2 separate regions of the Homo sapiens genome follow, and region 2 is linked to region 1. A link means that fine-mapping ties the variant in region 1 to the expression of a gene that starts in the linked region. Tissue or cell type: lymphoblastoid cells. Region 1 holds a variant in brackets; the other region holds the start of a gene. All regions are shown on one strand. Distances are from middle to middle. Region 1 overlaps NRXN3 (neurexin 3). Region 2 holds the start of SPTLC2 (serine palmitoyltransferase long chain base subunit 2).

Evidence for each region. PIP is the estimated chance that this variant, and not a neighbour inherited with it, causes the effect.
Region 2: it holds the start of SPTLC2, and the variant in region 1 is fine-mapped to the expression of SPTLC2 in lymphoblastoid cells (GEUVADIS, PIP 0.95).

The regions. Positions count from the first base shown.
Region 1 is chr14:78,201,482-78,206,857 of GRCh38, forward strand. The region is part of intron 1 of NRXN3 (neurexin 3); the gene reads left to right. Among named protein-coding and RNA genes, the nearest start is that of NRXN3, 34 kb to the left of the region's middle. The variant G/C (reference allele first, on the strand shown) is at 2,759.
Region 2 is chr14:77,613,858-77,619,233 of GRCh38, forward strand. SPTLC2 (serine palmitoyltransferase long chain base subunit 2) reads right to left here and starts at 2,780. Exons shown (of 12, transcript NM_004863.4): 1 at 2,591-2,780. The coding sequence starts at 2,722. RefSeq lists enhancers at 2,037-2,246, 2,575-3,107 and silencers at 2,427-2,626, 2,767-2,816, 3,147-3,206.

The DNA.
Region 1 (5,376 bases):
GCTCACGTTCTGTCCTTCCTTGGCCGTAGACACTGTTCAGGCATGGGGGCAGTGGTGAAGGAGCAAGAAGCTGGGAGTTGGAGCAGGGGGAGCCTGCATCGAGGACTGGTTGTACTCCCTTGGCTTGCATGGGACTTCTACGTCAGAGTGAGAGAACACGCACAAATCTGCTGCAATTGACCTTTTAAGTCAACCCGTTGCATATGTTTGCTACACGAAGGAGCTGCTGACAAGTCTCGGGCTGGAGACAGAAGGTGGAGAAGAAAGGAGAAATCTCACCACCACGGGCTGGTGAGACAGAGCAGTGGGCAGAGACAGAGCTGTGGTGATGCTGTCAGCCGCTCCGACATGCTGTTCTTCCATCTTCTCCGATGACGCGCGTCTGAAGTGTGACTCGGAGGCCGCAGGAGGAAAGTGCGATGAGCCTGCACCATTCAAAGCCTCTCTCTGAGCAAGGTCGCCAGGGCGGAAATTGGCTACAGCGACCAAGGCCATTGAATCTAAGGTCCATTTCTGGCTAGGGCTTCAACCAAGGGAAGAATGGGTGGCTGGTTCAGGTGCAGCCCAGAATGAAAGCAGTGGGGAGGGAGAAACTCCCATAGCTGCCATGGGTGAGCTGCCATGGGTGAGCTGCCATGGGTGAGCCGCGGCATGCCTTCCAGGATGAGAGAGCCAAGTGCCATCCTGGGTGAAGTAGGAGGGGGAAACGAAAGGCTGGGTCATTTGAGACAAGCATGCCTCCATTACCCTGCCTGAAAACGAAGGGAACACCTGTTCTTGTCTGCAGTCAGAGAGGATTTGACAGAATTTTTAAAGTAAAAAGTGAAATGAAATTTAGATCAGCCTCTGCAAAAGGACTTTGTGGATTTCCTGTCGGTTAAAGATGTGGCAGCATTATTGTTCCTGTTTCTGGAGATGTCAAGAGTAAAATGGTGTGACGTTTGTCAAGTGCTTGGACTTACTATAACCAGACATGCTGCCGGGGGCCTTCCCTGAAGGTCACCTGTCAGGGCTGTAAAGTCAGGGGATGTGGGGATGGGAGGAGGTCAGCTAGGTCACCTGAAAGTCCCTCCTAGGTCTGTGAAAAATCTGTTAGATGGAAAAATAAATGGCAGGGATGGGCTTTCTGTTTCTATGTGTGTTGGCCAGGTGGGCTAAACAGATCTCTCATATCAAGGCCAACCCCTCACTGACACCCTGCGAGGGAAAACTTGGTTGCTGTGGGTGGGGACAGTGTCCCTGCCAACTGTTAAGAGTCCCTGCCCTTTTCCAGGGACAAGGGCAAGACAGGAAAAGGGGACCAATTTCCGAGTACTGTGTGCTAGACTCAGGTTTGTGATGTATATTATTTTAGTTTTATAATCCTAACCCAATGCCATAGGTAGAATTAGCATTTTCTGTATTACATATGAGGACACAGAGGGGCAGAGCCATTAGAACACTAGAATAAAGCAACACAGCTAGCCAGCAAGTAGAGATAGACATCTAGGACCACAGCCTGGTCGGGGCTACCATCCCCCTCTACTTCTCTGGCTGGGGATGGGGCTTGTTGGCTCTTTCAATACATGGGCATGTCAAGGCTCATATCTGAGTCCCCATGCCTTTCTCTTTACACATGAGATGTTTCCTCTTACACTTATGTCCATAGAGAGGGCTTTCCCCTGGGAATGTGCCCTGGGGGCCTGAGGCTGTGAGTTACTGTGCAGATGTGAAGTACCAGGTGTGCTGAAGGCAGATTGGTTTGTGAGAGGGGGCAACTCCTTTGTTTCACCCCCAACCCCCATGTGAGATGAGGCTTCCTGGGGCCCAGGGGCAATATTACTAATAATTACTCATTGTTGGCATTTTGGAGCTAGGTAAAGCATTCTCCCATTGCTACTGTTTCAGGGTTAGACATCAGTGACGAGTAGCCTGGGATATGGCACTGGCTCCCAGGTATGATGTATTTCTTTGATCCTAGTCTTTTTCAGCTGCTCGGCTCAGTTTCAAAACTGGGTGGGAAATGTCACAGGCTCATTTTCTTGTTGTTTTTCTTCTGTCCCCTGAGGGGTATGGCCACATGCAGAGAGGTGGAAAGGAGGGACAGGAAATGGGACCAATCCACCTGTGTTCGGAAACCTCAGTTAGTGTTGCTTTATTTCCTTCACCAATCTGATAAGGTTTTCCGTTACCACTATTAATACATAGTACTTTATGTGATACAAATGATAAACACTAATACTGAAAACTTTAAAAAGTCAGAAAAGCACAGAGACAGAAGCAAAAAAATCACTATTTTCCTACCACATACCATTGTTGACTTTTTGGTGTAGATCCTTCCAGGTGTGTGTGTGTGTGTGTGTGTGTGTGTGTGTGTGGTTTGTGTGTGTGTGTGGTTTGTGTGTGTGTGTGGTTTGTGTGTCTGTATTAGATTGTATACACTTCTTTTTTTATTTGTTTACAGAAACACACTGTGTTGTCTGATTTTTTTTTCCTGATTTTAGTGTTATAATGTGAGCTTGTTACTGTGCCAGTAGGTATTCTTTAACCTTTTATTGAAAGGGTTGTAAAGGTATAAAGTACTCCATTACAGAGATGTAACAATTTACTTTATTCCTTATTGTTGGATATTTAAATTCTACATTTTCTATATTTAAAAATAATATTGTTCCTCCCGCTAAAGTTTATGCCATATTACCATCCCACCTGCAGAGTATAAGAATTAACATTTTCCAGCCCCTTTATAATGTATTTTTGCTAAGCCTGGCCTATTAGATAG[G/C]CCTAAAAAAGTGACATTTTTTTTTTTGTTTTAACCTTGGCCAGTTCTAAGAAAGAGCACGAGCATGTATGAATGGGTTCTTCAGTGGTGTGAGGAAAAAATATGTTTGCCACCTTGGTTTGTTTTTCTTTATTTGCCTCTTGGTTTTTCCTTTGTCAGCGTAATGCAGAAACACTAGATCTCCACCCTAAGAAAAAAGGTATATAAAAATATATTTAGGGATATTTCTCACAGTTTTATTTATAATGTTACTGTGAGAAAAGTTTTAAAAAGTTGAAATATCTTAAGTTCTTTGGATGGGGAATTACTTAAATTAATGGTGGTAATGAAATATTATGCTATCATCAAAATAACTTAATGGTGTAGGGAAAAATCAAGCTATAAACTATGTATATTATGATCTAAATTAAATAATATGTGCATAGAAAAAAGACTACAAAGGTTAATGTTAATCATTTCTAAGTGGCATAATTGTGCTTTTTCTCTTGTATTTTCAAAAATTTCTAGCAGGCACATGTATTATTATTGTAATCCTACACAAAACAAATGTTAGCATAAATTCTAAAATATCATACATGGCAATAAAGAGCCGTAAGTAACTGGGTTTTGGGTCACTTGGATTCTACTGAGGACTTTGTAGGTGATGGAGCCTTTTCACGTTCTTTGAGGTTTGTGGAGTTCTTTGGAAGTTTTCAGGACCATTTCATAGGAGGGGCTTCTAGGAGACCAGAGTCAAAGTGCGGAGACCAAGAGTAGCTTTCTATCTGACCTTCTGCCCTTTGTGTTGATGGGGGCACAGGTAGTGCAGGAGAAATCTATTTAGGTGCCCGCTGCCCCAGCCCACAGGGCACGCTGAACATGCCACCCAAGGTACCAGTGGATCTCAGGATCACTGCAGTTGGTGTTTGGAGACTGAAGGGCTGGGGATGCCAGAGGGTTAATGTCTAAATATCATTGCGAGGACTGATTGGATGTGTTTAAGTATTTCTGACAATGACAAGCATAATGGGGACAGAATTCTGTGCCAATCCCTTTACCTACTGATGAGGAAATGGAGGTCTGGGGGGGATTAAGTCACTTGCCCATGCAAGCATCTTTATTTTTCTTTCCCAACCCAGAGTACCACTGGCATGGTGCAATGTGTCATGTGTTGGGTCTTTTCAGATTGGCTGAGACGATGCACGGCACACTTGGATGTTGTTGAAGTACTTACACTTTGCTTGGGTAGAGTTTGCATGAAAGAGCATTATTTAACTCTTTGAGTAGTAGGATTGGGCTTCCTGGAGGAATTGAGGTGAAAGATCAAAAAGTTGATTGTGGCTTGGCTTAGGCCAAGAGGGTAAAGAGGAGTATTCCAGGTAGAGGGAACAGTCTGTGCAGAGGTGGAGGGACAGCAGGGTGCATTAGAGACAAAGATTGCTGAGGGAAGAGCCAGCTGCAGGATGAGAGGGATGCATCTAAAGAGGTGGCAGACAGCTGGGAAAGGGCCTTGCCTGCCAGGCCAGAGTTTGGACTCCATGTTGAGAGCCACCAAGAGTCACTGAAGAGCTCTAAGGAAAGGAGTTGTGTGCTCGAACTGAAATTATGCCAAGATCACTTTGGCTCCAGTGTGGGAATGGGTGAGAGAGGACCAGGGCTGAATGCAAGGAGATAAGTGAGGAGTCTAGGTCAACAATTCAGGTAAGAGATGGTGATGGAGTTAAGTGGCAGTGAGGATAGAAAGGGGTAGGCAGGCAGAAGGGAAGAGTTTGTATTGAGCAATTGGGAGGTTGTGGGTGCCATTTGATGAGGCCAAGAAACCAGATCACAAAGCAAATGTGGAGGCTGCTGGGAGGTTGATGAATCCAGGTTGGGGCATATTGTGTTTGCGGTACCTGTGGGGCACAAAAGTGGAGATGCCCTGTCTTTTTGTTTTGTAAAGTACCCAGTAGAGGCTCACTTTTTTCCTCTGACACCATGGAGGAGTTTCTCTATGTACAATGAGACTTGTCTTCCAAAACCTTTTCATGACTGCTTTTCCCAGGTGCTCACACCATTCCTGTGAAGTGGACTAGGGGAGCTTTTCTCAATGCAGAGTGTTCAGACACAGTATCCCATGAAATGGTGTTCGTGTTTTCTTGGAATACAGCCATGCAGGGGGTTTCCACACTGTGTTTGGATCACTCATACCCCAGAAATGGCAGGTTTCTCCTCCTCTAGTCTGCCCAGAGGAGGGGGACCTGAGTGGGGAAGAAACTCTCTCTTGTGCCCTGAGAAGAATGCTTCTCTCTCTGTAAATAAAGAGGAACAAAGGCCCAGAGAGCCCAAGAGAGGAAAAAAAAGAGTGAAAGGCTGAGATGAGATTGCTCCCATTGCTTAACTAGTGGCCTCCTTGGTTGGTAGGGCAGCTGGCAGGACTACCGCCTGCACTCCTTCCCTGGAGTTACTGTCCTGAATGTTCTCAGGGTGGTTACACAGACCCATCTTGAGGTCACTTCATGGTCCCGTTTCATAACTGGCAGGGATGTTGGAGATTATGGAGTCCAAACTGTGGCTCAAAGTGGGTGGTGAGCAACTTGTCCAAGGTTACACAGTGAGTTGGCCTCCAGGCTTCTTTTCCTGTTTTGCCACATCGGACA
Region 2 (5,376 bases), 590 kb before region 1:
AACTTTTAAAAAATGTTAAGATATTGTATTGCTCTCATGTAGTTACCAAGATCTCTCTTTTGTATAAGAAAGAAAAATATTCACAGACAATATTCCTCCATCTGAGAGTGTAGAAAGCTCCAGATCTGAAGTCTGTATTAAAAATACTGGTGAGAAGTAGTTTTCTAGAAGGGATACTGCAGCCCTCACAGCATTCCAACAGACCGTTCTTCCAAATGCCACCAATGTGCCTTGAGTGAAACTTTTACAAAACATGTCCCCAAAAGTCAACCAAATGTTATTCATACAGATTTTAAAATGTCATGTTAGTACCTTGATATTTCTTCACCTTATTAGTTGGCAAGCTCTGAAGAAATATCATTCTATAAATGCTAAATTGTTAGAGATTATGGGAGAAAGGTCCTTGATTTCCTACTAAATCTGAACATAACTCATAGGGATTGAAAGAAGCATTTGAACACAAAGCAACGCTGAAGTGTGAACACCTTTCTCTTGACTTCCTTTTTCATTTTAAAAAATCATACCGGCCAGGTGCAGTGGCTCACACCCGTAATCCCAGCACTCTGGGAGGCCGAGGCAGGCGGATCACGAGGTCAGGAAATCAAGACCATCCTGGCTAACACAGTGAAACCCCGTATCTACTAAAAATACAAAAAATTAGCCGGGCGTGGTGGCGGGTGCCTGTAGGCCCAGCTACTTGGGAGGCTGAGGCAGGAGAATGGCGTGAACCTGGGAGGTAGAGCTTGCAGTGAGCCGAGATCGCGCCACTGCACTCCAGCCTGGGCGACAGAGCGAGACTCCATCTCAAAAAAAACCAAAAAAACAAAAAAAATCATACCTCGGCCTGGTGCGCCTGTAATCCCAGCACTTTTGGAGGCCAAGGCAGGCCAATCACCTGAGGTCAGGAGTTCGAGACCAACCTGGCCAACATGGTGAAACCCCATCTCTAATAAAAATACAAAATTTAGCCGGGCGTGATGACGGGCGCCTGTAATCCCAGCTACTCGGGAGGCTGGGGCAGGAGAATCGCTTGAACCCAGGGGGTGGAGGCTGCAGTGAGCCGAGATCGCGCCATTGCACTCCAGCCTGGGTGACAAGAGCAAAACTGTCTGAAAAAAAAAAACAAAAACAAAAACAAAAAAAAAATCATACCTCAATGAAATTCACCTGCAAATGTATTTTCTAACTCCTACCCGTTAAATTTCCCTATTACATTCTATACCACAACAATTTTGTCTTATAAGTCGTTTACATTGCTAGGAAAACGACAAACTATTCCACTGCTTATAATGAGCTGACTGTTATCACTTCCTCCCTCACACAATTATTTCTTTAAAAGTGAAAACAAATCTTTTGATCTGTGTATTACTTCGCTTTGACACCTTACAACTTCAGGGGAGGTCAAGTCTGCTTTACTTATTTTTCCCCTCAACTCAGTCTCAATATCTCAACATGACCTGGAAAAATGCTTTATTTTCTGCTTCGCAGCAAACAGTAACAGACCTATCCATCATAACTACTCATCTGGGGAGTAGTTATGTTAAAGCCAAATTAAGATCACCATCCTATCAAACTGCAACAGTCACACTCCCGCTAAAGGGAAACAGAGTACTTTCTAAGCGTTCCTTAATATCTGTACAAGACTTAAACGTATTAAAGTCAACTGCAAAATTATCGCAACACTCTCTTCCAGGAACACCGATCTTGCATCTTTTTAACCAGCTCATCTTTAAAAACACATTTCAACAGAATATCTGTCAGTCCAGACCACTGTAAGGTTGATAATAAGCATTGTCTTGAATTTAGAACTTTTCAAAATATTTTAGAACTGCCTGAACTTGGTTGATGATTCAGCATGGTTAATTAGTATAGAGTCATCGCAAGTCACCACCAGGCTAAACAATCCCCTTGTGTGATAGCACTCGTGTTCAGGAAAGGGTCGAAGGGGCCACCTAATCCAACCTGGAGCCTGGGGTAGAGTCTCACCACCGGCAGAGTTAAGAGAATGATGCTTTCGAGGGACCAGCTTGGATTCCCTGCCAGATCTATGGACCAATGTCCTGGTTGGGGACTGAACGTGGTAGTCCAGAATGTGGTTGGGAGAGGCTGGGTGTGTTTCCATCTGACACCACCGCCTAATTTTCTTTGCTTCTTAAGGACCCCATGGGTGGTTTTCTTTGGACGACTGCAGGACTTTAAAAGGAAGCAATAACCTCAGGGGTTTGAGAAGGGACCCTCCGGAGCCCTTGGGCGGCTCCCACTGGAGTCCGAAGGGCCCCTCATCGCTTCCCCTGGGGACAGCACACACTTCTGGCAGAATGGGGCAGAGAAAAGTACCCGGAGCTCTGAGCAGAACCCAGAGCTCCGGGAGTAAGACCTCCAGGCGCGGAGAGGTGGGGAGCCCCCGAGCCGTCCTTGAGCCTCCAGGCTCGTGGAGGTCGGGCCAGCGGCCGGACACTGCCGCCCACACCTGCGAACGGCGCCCGCCCCGCGGATTGCCCAGCGGATGGCCCGGAGACCTCGCCCCGCCCGGCCGCCCCTCCGCCAGTCCACACCGCCACCCCGGCCCCGCCGCGCGGGCCCCTCGTACCTGGCCGGCGGCGGCTGCGGCTGCGGCTGCAGCGCTGCTCCTCACGTACCCGTTCCGTACTTCCCCGTTCGCCACGCAGCCATTCGCCCGCACCGTGCGGCGGCAGCAGCAGCCTCCGGGCTCCGGCCGCATCTTCCTGGCAGCACCAGGCGCAAGGCAGGCTCTGTAGGCGGTGGCAGCGGCGGCGGCTGCTCCAAGTCCCGCTCCGCACCCCACCCACCTCCCCGAAACCGGAAATGGCTGCAGCGCCGCCGCCAATTCCCGGGCGGGCCTTCACAGAGGGCGGGGCCCTCTCCGCAGAGGACCGGTCTCGGCCAAGGCCACGCAGCGAAGGGAAAAAGCGGCGGGGACCTGCCGAGAGGGATGTGGTCCTGAGGACCGCTGACCAATCTGGAAGAGAAGGAGGCGGACCCCATGCTGCTGCCTGGCCAATCACGGACGAGAGCAAAGCGCCTCGCCGGTGGAGAGGGGGCTTCTCTAGAGGGACTCCAGGGCCTGGCACCTGATTGGAGGCCGCATCCAGGTCCGGGGTAGGGCTTGCCTGTTTAATGGTCCAGACCGAGGAGGAGGCGGAGCCCAGGGAAAAGTAGCCAATTAGAGTGTGAGGAAATAAAAGGGGCTGAGCCGAAGTCTCTAGAGCGGGTTCCCAGGTTCTCCAGGACAGGTGGCGCCCTCTTTGCCCTTGCCTCGTGGGAAGTTTTGGAGTTTATGTCCTAGCCCAAGACAGGCAGCTCGCTTATTTAATTAGCTGATTCCTCTGTGAGTGTTTATAGAATAGATTTTTTGACAATCTCTCATCATTCTTCAATATGCGCCACACATTCACTATTTCTGAATTATTATAAGTAATAATTCAGATGCCTTTTCACGTGCCCTTCACATTTGCCCTTGGCAGGGTTTTCTATACAGTCTCCTTTAAATTAAGTCTTTCCTTCAAAGTTAGAAAACCTGGTCTAATTCCAACTCTGCCAATAACTGGAAGCTAAAACTTGAGCACTGTGTTTAACCACTTTAGAAGCCAAATTCTTTAAAATGGAGTTAATACTTCCTGCTTCATAGACTTACAGCAAGAATTATATCATTAACCCATTATGCACCTCTTATAATACTAGGCTTATAGTAGGAGTATAATAAATATTATTTTCTCACCCTTTTAGTTCCATCTTCCCATGGGGTTAGAAAGCAAGGAAATTGATCTACATTACAATTAGAGACTTTCTGTTATCCATAAAGAATTTAGTATCATAATTGAGAGTATGGACTCTGGAGTCGGTCTGGGTTTTAAATCCTAGCTGCGCCACTTACTAGCTGAGTGACCTCTATGTGTCTTCATCTGTTCAGTGGGGACAATAATAGTTGTCGTGAAGATTGAATAAGTTTATGTATGTAATGTATTTTGTACAGGACCTAGCAATTAGTAAGCATTCATTAAGTGTTGGTTACTAGTAATTGCTAAATGCACCTATGAGAATCCGTGCATTCTTTCCCCACCCTGCAGGAGCTTTAGAAAGGAGGTCCACAAGGTATTGGTTTTGCATGACTTAGGAGCTGAATAATCTAACAGAAGGTGGGATCATTCATCCCACACATCCTATTTGAGTTGACAAACACTATTGATCCCAAAGTGAATATACATCTGTATGTATAAGGCTAAAAAGGAAACATGTGGCTGTGCTTCATGGAGCTTACATTTCAGTGAGAGACAAGATATACACATAGAAAGAAAACAATAGTTAAAGACCAACCTAAGGCTGGAGAGATTAGGCAACAGGAGTTCTGATGAGGGAAGCTGAATGGCAGTGATGAGTCTAACCAGGTAGAAAGTTTTCAGGGCAGGAATCTGGATGGAAGCAGGGCTAAGGGATTTAACTGAAGCTTAGGGAGTGAGCTGAATGACTCTGGAGAAGGCTTGCGAGGAAGATGTGCAATGAGACAGATCTTGGAAGATGAGCGGGACTTGGAGAGCTGGAACTGAGAAGGATGGGGAGGGTGTTCTGAGGAAACCTTCAGAAACTCGGGTGTCGAGTCTAGAAAGATCAAAGCCTCACCTGCAGGCTAAGAGGAGTAAAGGAGTCTGGCTAGATTTGAGGAGTCCTGTTAGCCGATCCCTCCTCAGGGGGCTGGCCCCTTGTCTTGTTCCGCCACTTACTCACTATGTATAGTCTTGGACAAGTAATGCAAACTCAGCCCTGGTTTCCTCACTCATCTTACAAAGTGTGTACCTGTACTACTTACCTTACAGGCTTCTGTGAGCATCAGTGATATACAGATGATCTGATTACTTCACATGCCATTGCTAAATCACAAAAATGATGCTGCAGTAGGCAGTAGGAAACACCCCAGACTCCATGTAAACAGGAAAACAACTCCTTCCAGAAACATAAGCCGCTTAATCATCATTTTACAGTGTTCATATGCAAAGTTCTGTGCTAGGCACCAGGAAGACAACCCTTCTCTTCCTTCAAGATTGCTCAAACCACTTCAACTGTGAAGCCTGTTTTGAACCCCAACCTCCCCACAAAATTAGTTGCTTTCTCCTCTGTGAGCTTTATACACACCTGTGTAAGCATGTATCACACTGCTTTGAGATTCTTTGAGAGGGAGGTTACACAATGCTTAGAAGCAAGAGCTCTGCAGTCAGATATACCATAATTGAAGACCGGTTTCAGCACCTAGAATCCTTATGATTTAGGCAAAGCTGCCTAACCTCTCTATGACTCAGGTACTTCTTCTGTAAAATGGGATATACCTCATAGAGTTGGAGAATTAACAAAAGCATTTAGTGC